Homo sapiens: one gene and its partners. The protein of the gene in region 2 interacts with the protein of the main gene of each other region in a biochemical or structural test. Each region holds a gene or a part of one and is shown on either strand. Other genes may lie near its edges.

Evidence for each region.
Region 1: the proteins of TAF7L (region 2) and LRRK2 interact on a protein array, tested with the Homo sapiens proteins (one large-scale study listed by IntAct).
Region 3: of the proteins of TAF7L (region 2) and SRPK2, one has a biochemical effect on the other in vitro, tested with the Homo sapiens proteins (one large-scale study listed by BioGRID and IntAct).

The regions. Positions count from the first base shown.
Region 1 is NC_000012.12:40,227,972-40,231,626, reverse strand, and holds part of LRRK2 (leucine-rich repeat serine/threonine-protein kinase 2), read right to left. Parts: intron 1-3,655. UniProt on the Homo sapiens protein: Serine/threonine-protein kinase which phosphorylates a broad range of proteins involved in multiple processes such as neuronal plasticity, innate immunity, autophagy, and vesicle trafficking.
Region 2 is NC_000023.11:101,267,662-101,271,105, forward strand, and holds the end of TAF7L (transcription initiation factor TFIID subunit 7-like), read right to left. Parts: intron 1,577-3,444; coding exon 1,532-1,576; 3' UTR 596-1,531; downstream 1-595. UniProt on the Homo sapiens protein: Probably functions as a spermatogenesis-specific component of the DNA-binding general transcription factor complex TFIID, a multimeric protein complex that plays a central role in mediating promoter responses to various activators and repressors.
Region 3 is NC_000007.14:105,140,858-105,144,512, reverse strand, and holds part of SRPK2 (SRSF protein kinase 2), read left to right. Parts: intron 1-1,182; coding exon 1,183-1,429; intron 1,430-2,022; coding exon 2,023-2,505; intron 2,506-3,655. UniProt on the Homo sapiens protein: Serine/arginine-rich protein-specific kinase which specifically phosphorylates its substrates at serine residues located in regions rich in arginine/serine dipeptides, known as RS domains and is involved in the phosphorylation of SR splicing factors and the regulation of splicing.

The DNA of each region.
Region 1 (3,655 bases), on a different chromosome or scaffold from region 2:
GCTATACCAGATCCTTAGTACTTTTTTTTTCTTGTTTTTTTTTTTTTTTTGGTTTTGTTTTTGTTTTTGAGATAGGGTCTCACTCTGTCACCCAGGCTGGAGTGCAATGGTGCAATCATAGATCACTGCAGCCTAGAACTCCTGTCCTTAGGTGATCCACCCACTTCAGCCTCCCAAGTAGCTGGGACTACAGGTATGTGCCACCACACCCAGCTAATTTTTTTTTTTTTTTTTTTGTGAAGACAGGGGTCTCGCTCTGTTGCCCAGGCTGGTCTCAAGCTCCTGGGCTCAAGCAATCCTCCTGACTTGGCCTCTCAAAGTGCTGGGATTACAGGCGTGAGCCTCTGCACCTGGCCCTTAGTAGGTTTTAAGTCATATCTACCTGACAGAATTTCCTCCACATATTTAAAATTTTAATTATAGGAAAAAATGAAGTGGCTTATAATGAAGGATTAGGTGAAGTTGGAGATTTTAGTAGCAAAATGTAAGTTATCAGAATGGCTGCTCCCCAAGTAATGAAGCTAGAATAATAGAGGCAAGAAACGTGGCATTTTTAGCAATTGAATCTACATCTGATAGGAGAAAAAGAGAAAGAGCTCTATAAAATAGACAGGAGGTAGAACTCCTCAATGGCTCCCTCCAGATTTCTCTAGAATGAATTGATAAGGTCTAGAGATCACAGACACCCCTAGTAGGCTCTTTCACATTTCGAAATAAAATATGAAATTATAGATGCATTTTAAGTATATCTTCACTCAGTCTGTTTACAAGATGCCAACTTGACTAAGTTGCTCTTTACCTCTGAAAAAAAAATTGAAAGTCCTGATTTCAAACCGGAGATGAAAATTAACCTATTCTTCCTACTGTAGACTCCTCCCTCTCTAAATGTAAAGGATCTCCAATTCATTCTATTATACTATAGAACTATACTTGACATGGTCAAAAAAAAAAAAAAAAAGAGAAAGTGCATATATGTACCCTCTAGAGACTAATGGAAAAGTATCTAAGTGTGATGTGTAATAAATACCAATATAATAGAAATACTGAAAGTAAGACTCAGTGTGAGTTGAAATTACTCAGAGAAGAATATAATATGAAGAGGTAGAGCTTAAGCCAGATTGTATAAGAACGGATGAGCGGTGAGGAGAGTAGGCTGCTACATGATAAGGAAGCTGCTACAGGGAAGAGGCTATTTTGGGATAAGGCTGGATGCATAAGTAAAGTTGAATATTGCAAGGAGTTGAATGACAAGGTGAGAAATCTATATGCACCCAATAAGGAATAATGGCACAAGTTTCTTACTCGCTTACGGGAGTAAACAACGGCTATTTTAGGAAGATAAAAATGATTACTCAAGATCTCTTTACAATATTACTTTTGGATCTTTTCCAGATTAAACATAAATTGCTTTATTTTGTCATTACTTCCTTTTACATAATTTCAAATTGCTTTCAAAGGCGGCAATTTCTGATAGCTATTTCTACCTATACTACTCAAGTAGGACATCCTCCTCCACGTAAGCTGAACAGACGTTGACAATCCAGCTGTCATAGAAACTGACTATTTTTGTGCTTTCATAGAATACATCAAGACTTTTTTCCGAACTATTTAAGAAAATAACATTCTGAACAGCTTCTGGTGGTAAAAAAAAAAAAAAAAAAAAAAAAAAAAGTCACATAGGATGCCAAACTCATCTCTGTACCTACAAAGCTGACTCAAGGAAAAAACCTGTTTGTTTTGGTTGGTGAAGCAACAGTATCAGTAAACGCTTTGCAAAAAGATTCAGGCAACTGAGCTCTCCAGCACTACATGGAACTTCTGTGATTAAATAGAATCTCTGGCAGCAAAGCAGAGGTAACAATTGATCCATTAATCTATTCAATTAAAAGCTTATCTCTCTAAGAGAGAAGGTTCCCATCTTGCACAGTTACAATACAATTAAATTGGTAGTTTTACTTTATTATAATTATTCTAAAAACTCAAGCATGTAATTAATGCACAACAGGAAAGAGTCTAGGGGTTAAAGAAAAAATTTTAGCCACTTTCATTTATTTTGCTCCCCTTCTTCAAAGGTTGAACCCTTGAGAATAAAGAGATGTAAAATTTAGGAGCACAGTGAAAAGATAGGCAGGAAAAGAAAAATATAAAGCACCTAGCTTAACCGTCAATTTTCTAAAGACTGTCATTTATGAAGAAACATTAATAAAATATGAAACAAACTTTGAAAATAAAACTGGCAGTCTGGAATATCATGTTAAATGGCATCTAGAAACAAACCTTAATCTTTATTTTAAATAGTAATTAAGAATTACTATTAAATTAAATGAAGGAGAAATTTACCTTAATACCTTAAATTTATCATTAAGAGTTTTTCTTTTGGCACTTCCAGCTAATTCAACATATAAAGCAGTAAAGGATACTTACAGTAATTATACTAATAATATAAAGAAATCTGAAGGAAAAATACTACTTTTAAGTGAGTATTAAAATGTCAGTAGGAGACCCCTTTCTACATCCCCTTGTTAAGACCAATGATAATTTAAATTGATGTCATTGTACCTAGCATGGCCACAGTATTTGTATCAAACCATTTTGCTTTTTACTAGCTTGCACAAAAAGCTTGCGAATTCAGCAGCTAGTAGATTGTATGATGGAAAGAGATTTTGAAGGTGTGAGAAGACTTGAGTCTTAGGTCTGTCACAAGCTCTTTGATCCTCAGTGAGCAGCTTACTCTCACTTCGCTATGACAGTAAAACATCCGGTAATATTTCCAGGAGGGCAGTGAGATTTCAGTGAGAATCAAATATTGGCTGTGCAAAAGAAGGAAACTAGATCCACAGCTTTCACCATATACACAAATCATTTCAAAATGGATTAAAGACTTACATCTCAGACCTGAAAATATGCAACTACTAGAAGAAAACACTGGGGAAATGCTACAGGACATTGGTCTGTGCAATGATTTTTGGGGTAGGACCTCAAAAGCACAGGCAATTACAACAAAAATAGGCAAATGGGATTATATCAAGCTAAAAAGCTTCTGCACAACAAAGAAAATAATTAACAAAGTGAAGAGACAACATAAAGAAAGGGAGAAAATATTTGCAAAATATCCATTCAACAAAAGATTAACAACCAGAATACATAAGGAACTAAAAAAACTCAATTAGCAAAAAAAAAAAAAAAAAAAAAAGTCTTATTTTTAAATGGACAAAAGATCCAAATAGACATTTCTCAAAAGAAGACAGACAAATGGCTAACAGGTACATGAAAAAAAAATCCTAAACTTCACTAATCATTAGGGAGAGGCAAATCAAAACCATAATGAGATATTATCTCACCACAGGCAGAATGGCTATTATCAAAAAGACAAAAAATAACAAATGCTGGTAAGGATGCAGAAAAAGGGGAATGGTGGTACACTGCTGATGGGAATATAAAGTAGCACAGCCATGATGAAACACAGTATGGAGGTATCTTAAAAAACTAAAAAGAGAATTTTCATATGATCCAGTAATCTCATCGCTGGGTATATATCCAAAAAAAGAACATCAGTATATCAAAGATATATCTGAACTCCCATGTTTATTGCAGCCCTGTTCACAATAGTTAAAATACAGAATCACCTTATATGTCTATCAACAGATTAACAAAG
Region 2 (3,444 bases):
CATATTAACCATATAGCATTGGGATTTGGAGCAAATCTTCTCACCTTAACAATACAGCATTGGGATTTTATTTGCTTAGTTTATTAGGAGTTACCCTAAGAACTCTGGAAGGATGCCCCAAGGCTGATAGCATCTTCTGCCATTTTCTAATCAGAGTGCTATGGTCCGAATGTGTCCCCCAAAATTCATATGTTAAGATATAATCAGTAATGTGTTAGTATTAAGAGGTAGGGCTTTTGGGAGGTGATTAGGTAATGAGGGCTCCACCCTTATGAATGGAATTAGCGCCCTTTTAAAAGAGGCCCGAGGGAGTTTGTTTGCCCTGCGGTCATGTGAGGATGCACCCCGAAGACGCTAGGAAGCAGACAAACCCCTCACCAGATGCCAAAGCTGCTGGCACCTTGATCTTAGACTTCCAAGCCTCCAGAGCTATAAGCAATAAATTTCTGTTGTTTATATTTACCCAGTCTATGGTATTTTTGTTACAGCAGCCCAAATGAACTAAGATATAGAGCTTATTGCTTTTCTTCTTGTTTCTGTTTGGATATGAGTACACTCATCATGGGGGATGGTTTAATAAATTGACAACAATCCATTTAAAATGAACAATTTATTTATTGCTTAAAGAACATAGACCATAAAACACTAATAATATACCTAGAAAAAAACCCAAACAAGATTGTTAAAGAAGTCTTCATAGGCATTATGGCATCTTGTTCTTCCTAACCTTAACTGATGAGGGTTAGGAGGAGAAGGCTCAGAATAAGGATAACAGTTCATAATTTCTTCATCTCTGCTCTAACTGTTCCCTTAGTTGGTGAATAACAACCAGCTCCATCCTAAAAACAACAGAACATAAGCAGCAGCAAGGAATCATCCTTGAGCAGGAATGCAGTCCTGTTACCTGAACAGAGACAGAACACAATCTAGTATTAACTGCTGCAAGGTAGGCACTTAAACTCACTATGGCAGGTCCTAGTGCTTAGTAGAAATGACCTCGTTTTTTCCCCTATGTTTTAGGAAATACTAAAAACCAAAAGAAAAGCTAAAACATATGCAAACCAAACAGCTGTACGGCCTCTAGGCTAGACTGCCTTTAGAAGCATGGCTGAATAATCTGCTGGTACCATAGCACAGAAGCAATATAATCAATTCTTGTTTGGTGTGGTGGTGCACAACTGTAGTCCCAGCTACTCAGGAGGCTGAGGCGGAAGGATCCCTTAAGCCCAGGAGTCTGAATTCAGCCTGGGCAACATAACAAGACCCCATTTCTAAATTAATAATAATAATTCCCAAATTGACAAAGAGAAAGTCTCATGGTCGAGTGGGGTCTTTAAGTCTACTACATTTTTATACTGGCCTTTTCTACATGACTACAAACTGTGAGCATATTTTAAGTAGCAAAGAAGGTACAGATAAATATAACTGATTCAACATAAGGCAACTGAAGGGACAAAAACGTGCACAGTTTCATCCAATCTGCAGTCTGGATGGTGAATCCAAGGTTTGTGGGCCACGCCAATGGCTCTCCTCACTTCTTCAGAAAACGCTGCAACTGTTCCTGTAGGGAAATGAGCTGTAGGGAGAGGTAGAAAGACATGAAAAATTCATTTGAAATTTGAGGTCCCATTACTTGATCTAGAATTTACTTAAATGAACCAAAAAGAACTACTGTTATTTGGCATTTATAAGGTTATCTTAGTCTTGCAATGTTCCAGAGAATACTGGCCACAGTCAAGAATGCATGCATACTGCTGTGGCCATGATGATGTCCTTTATTATGCCCAATTTATGAAGAGAAGCTTTGTATTAGTCAGTTTTCACACTGCTGATAAAGATATACCTGAGTTTGGGAAGAAAAAGAGGTTTAATGGACTTACAGTTCCACATAGCTGGAGGCCTCACAATCATGGTGGAAGGCAAGGAGGAGCAAGTCATATCTTACATGGATGGCAGCAGGCAAAGAGAGGAGAACTTATGCAGGGAAACTCCCCTTTTTAAAACCATCAGATCTCGTGAGACTTATTCACTATCACGAGAACAGCATGGGAAAGACCTGCCCCCATGATTCAATTACCTCCCACCAGGTGCCTCCCACAACACGTGGGAATTAAAGATGAGATTTGGGTGGGGACACAGACAAACCATATCAAGCTTTAAAATTGAATAGGCTTTAAAAAAAAACAATATTTTTGCTGTTAAGAATTTGTGCTTCTGTGAAGAATATACAGAGGTCACAGCTCACTGTAGGGGCAAAGGAGATGGGATCTCTGTAGCCATATTCTAAGAGTCAGATGATAAAACAGTTGGGACACTCTCTTGTCCCAATGAACACAATGGGTCTTAGACTGAGTCTTACCAGCTGCTTCTTACCACATTAGGAGATACTTAGAAACTGAGCCAGAGCCCTGACCAATCAGGAGCCTGATGATGTTCTACTTAATGCTTTCTAAGTTAGAAGCCCTGAACATTTTGTGGTATAGGATTTACTTTTTTTTAACTTGAAATGGTAAAGTGACCAATAACATTCAGAGATGTATGCCATCTTTACAACAAAGGTTGTTTTTGAATATTATTCATTTCAGGACACTCCATACCAGAATGAATTTTTAGTCTGTGAAATGAAAGGAACATTATAAAACAATCCTATGCTGCACATCACCTACCAAGCCACAATAATTGCTGTCCGCAGTAACTTAGAGGCTCTTCTCACTCAGTTGCTGAGTGACCCCTGATTGACCATGATTACAACCACTGACTGATCCAGTTCTTTCTCCTTTGCAGGCTCTTTCTCTTCCCACCACCCCCTATAGATAGGTTTTTCCTTAGGTTCAGACTTCTTGCTGAACAATCAACCAGGCTAACTCAACTAGCCCCACAGCTTCAATGATCATTTCTGTGTATGGGCCTCTCTCCAATTTCCCATTTTCAAAAGCACTTCTCCACATACCCCTCCAAATCCACTTTTTGTTATCCTATTTTCAGTTAATGGCACATCATTTCCCAGTTTCCCAGGCTTTGGACTCATCTTTGTTCCCCTTTTTGCCCTGTAAATCCAATCAATTGTTAAGCTCTGTTTGCTTCTACCACTTGCACCTTTGAAGCTCCAGGCTGTCCCCACTCCAATTTCTCCTATATACTTCTGGCAGAAAAATCTTCCTGAGTTATTCCCCAGGTAAAAAGGCTTTGAAGGTTCATTATGACCTACACCAAAAATCTAAACTGTTCACCCTGGCATCACCACCTCTGAGCCAGTGTGCATGCTGCTTTCTCATGGAATGCACTCCTTTCCCTATCTCCTTATTAAAACCCTACCTATATTTTAAGGCCCCAGTCAAACACCATCTTCTCCATGAAGTCTTCTTTAATATCCATGGACAATCTGTCATTCCTTTAAGTCCCTACCCCTCTTGCCAATTTCTCCCCAAATGAAGACAGAGACTA
Region 3 (3,655 bases), on a different chromosome or scaffold from region 2:
TCCCTGCACTTTGGGAGGCTGAGGCCACTAGATCACTTGAAGTCAGGAATTCAAGACCAGCCTGGCCAACATGGTGAAATCCTGTCTCTACCAAAAATGCAAAAACTAGCTGAGTGTGCTGGTGGACGTCTGTAATCCCGGCTACTCAGGAGGCTAAGGCAGTAGAATCACTTGAGCCCAGGAGGTAACGGTTGCAGTGAGCTGAGATCACGCCACTGCACTCCAGCCTGGGCGACAGAGTGAGACTCCATCTCAAAAAAAAAAAAAAAAATTAGCCGGGTGTGATGGTGTGCACCTGTAGTCCTAGCTACATGGGAGGCTGAGGCATGAGAATCACTTGAACTCAAGAAGTGGAGGTTGCAGTCAGCTGAGATCACGCCACTGCACTCCAGCCTGGGCAACAGAGACTCTGTCTCAAAGAAAACAACAACAACAACAACAAAACACTATTTTTACTGAGACAGCTCTTGATTTGGAATGTAAGTTCTGGAACAAGAGGGAGCTTTAATAATTAAGCTTCCTGGCCTGCTGAGAAGCTCAAGTTGTTTCCCATAGTTCTTCCCTGGCTTGAGCTGCTTGAATTTACTGATTGATTGAAAGGTTGGAGGCTGTCATTGCCAGTGCTTTGCAAGTCAGGTAACCATGACGGGAGGCAGACAAAAGCTGTAGCTTTTTCTTTTTTCCCTTTGCAGCATAGGCTTATCTCTTACAGTTCATGTTGTCTTGGCTGCTAAGAGCTTCATATGTGAGACCCAAACACACAGTGACATACACCTGCTCGGGCACCTGTTTCATTTTTGGCATTGAGGAGCTGGGATGTTGTTACTTTGTATATAGACAGCAGCAAATAAAACTTGCAAGAGGAGCTTCTCCTTTAAGGCCAAGAGAATTTCGAACTTCAGTTCTCTTAGAGTTTGAATGGTGAAGACTTACTGGATTTAAGCTATATCCCTCTGAGGGCAGGACCTGGTAGTAGACCTAGTACGTGATATCAGTCAGCACTGCTTTCCCTTTGATTTTATCGTAAGCCTTACCACAAAGTGGATCTGTCTGGGTTTGGGATTTTAATAGAATATGGCATGAGAAAGCAGAGTTTATTGCTATTTGCCATGCTGCTAGTCGTTATACTATCGTGGTGCTTTAAAAAGAAGAATACTGACCTGTGGTCTTTCCTTAACATAGATAGGAAAAATATCTAAAAACAAAAAGAAAAAACTGAAAAAGAAACAGAAGAGGCAGGCTGAGTTATTGGAGAAGCGCCTGCAGGAGATAGAAGAATTGGAGCGAGAAGCTGAAAGGAAAATAATAGAAGAAAACATCACCTCAGCTGCACCTTCCAATGACCAGGATGGCGAATACTGCCCAGAGGTGAAACTAAAAACAACAGGATTAGAGGAGGCGGCTGAGGCAGAGACTGCAAAGGACAATGGTCAGTGGGGCCTGGAACCTGGGCTGCATGGGGTTCTCAGAGCTCCATTAGTAGGGTTCTGCCAGGTCAACATGGGGGCTGATTTGTGCTGCTGCTGCAGATGACAAGGATGATTCTCTCCAACTCCCTATTGGGAAATATGGGAAATAGCCTCGTACTTCATTTGTGAACTGTATGCCAGAAATATGTTAACATTTCAAAATAGTTTTTAAAAATGTAAAATAATTGAGAAATTCCATGTTTCTATCATGCTAATGATGGTGCTTTATTTTGTCATTAACTTTTTACCTAACTGTAATGCACCACAAGTCTGTTTCTGAAGATTATAGAGGGTAGAAATGGAAGTGCAACTTTATTTAGAAAGAGTTATTTTCCCTTAAAGCTAACTTTTTCTTATAAGAGCAGGCCAATTACTAAATGAATGAAAAATGAGATTTAGAAAACCTGAAGGTTTTACCCCAAAAGCCAAGAGGTGTTTACCAGGTGGTACATAAGCATATTCAAAATGTATTTTATTGATGGAGATAAGTACTTAATGAGGCTGTATTAAGGAGAGTAACAAGTTCTAATTCTTGACCCATCAAATTCTTAAGGTGAAGCTGAGGACCAGGAAGAGAAAGAAGATGCTGAGAAAGAAAACATTGAAAAAGATGAAGATGATGTAGATCAGGAACTTGCGAACATAGACCCTACGTGGATAGAATCACCTAAAACCAATGGCCATATTGAGAATGGCCCATTCTCACTGGAGCAGCAACTGGACGATGAAGATGATGATGAAGAAGACTGCCCAAATCCTGAGGAATATAATCTTGATGAGCCAAATGCAGAAAGTGATTACACATATAGCAGCTCCTATGAACAATTCAATGGTGAATTGCCAAATGGACGACATAAAATTCCCGAGTCACAGTTCCCAGAGTTTTCCACCTCGTTGTTCTCTGGATCCTTAGAACCTGTGGCCTGCGGCTCTGTGCTTTCTGAGGGATCACCACTTACTGAGCAAGAGGAGAGCAGTCCATCCCATGACAGAAGCAGAACGGTTTCAGCCTCCAGTACTGGGGATTTGCCAAAAGGTAAGTGTTTCTTCCCATCAACTGTCTGCCATCGCTGACTCCAGGGACGTGCCTTTAACAAATGCTGTGAAGGAATTGGCTGGAAGTGGCCAAGCCCTGTGTGTGTGTACTGATCAGTTTTATTACTTTTATACTCCTGAAGAAGTAATGTGATTTAAATAAATTTTCTATGCCATTAGGCTATTTCTTGCTCTCTGCATACCAAATCTTATTTCTGACCAGTTTTCATTTTTAATATATTTAGTCAGCAGCATCATTTGCAAAAACCTTCCAGTTTTAGCAACTTACACCTTTCTAGAATGTGTAGTTTAGTTTAAAATTCGTATCTTCTTCCATCTAATGTCATTATATTTAGTTTAGTTTAGTTTTGTTTTGTTTCTATTCAAGAAAATTATGCCTCCTCTTTGACTCTATTGAGAAAGAAGTGTCATATTGTCTTTTGATAGTTGTTCCTGATTATAGGACCCTACTATTGGTAACTGGCCCAGGATTGTAATTTTCAAGGAATTGGCATGGATTTAAATGTGATGACAGATTATAGATTGGCTCTTGTGTTCTTGTCTACCTAAGAAGGCTTGACTTATTCAAAGCCTTATTTTGGGAGTGAATGCCAAGTGACTCTAGTAAGTGAAAACTGGGTAACACAGCTGGTTTCCATACTGGCTTATGGGGGAAAAGCTCTGAAACCTCCCTCTGCTCCCTCTACTGACAAGACTGTTTAACACACAGCGAGTAAAATTGATGAGCCAGCCCTGCAAACAGCCCGACATTCTGCAGCCCCTTTGGTTCCAGCAGTCTGGAATTGCACGCCGAGTAAGCTGGCTTTGTTACGCACTGGCTATGATGAATCCTCCTAAGGATTTGCTTTCTTTACTTGGCTGGACGTGGTCAGCTCCTGTTCCCCTTTCCAGGGAGTGTTTGAAGGTGCTTACATAGAATGTAGGTTAATTTCTGGGAAAGGGCAGTAGTGAGAGGTACCTTATCCAGACTTATTGTTGCTGTTGCAGTTCAATTTTTCTCTTACTTGAAGTTTCTTTTTTTTTTTATGAGATTGAGTCTTGCTCTGTCACCCAGGCTGTAGTGCAGTGGCGCGATCTCGGCTCACTGCAACCTCTGCCTCCCGGGTTCAAGCGATTCTCCCGCCCCAGCC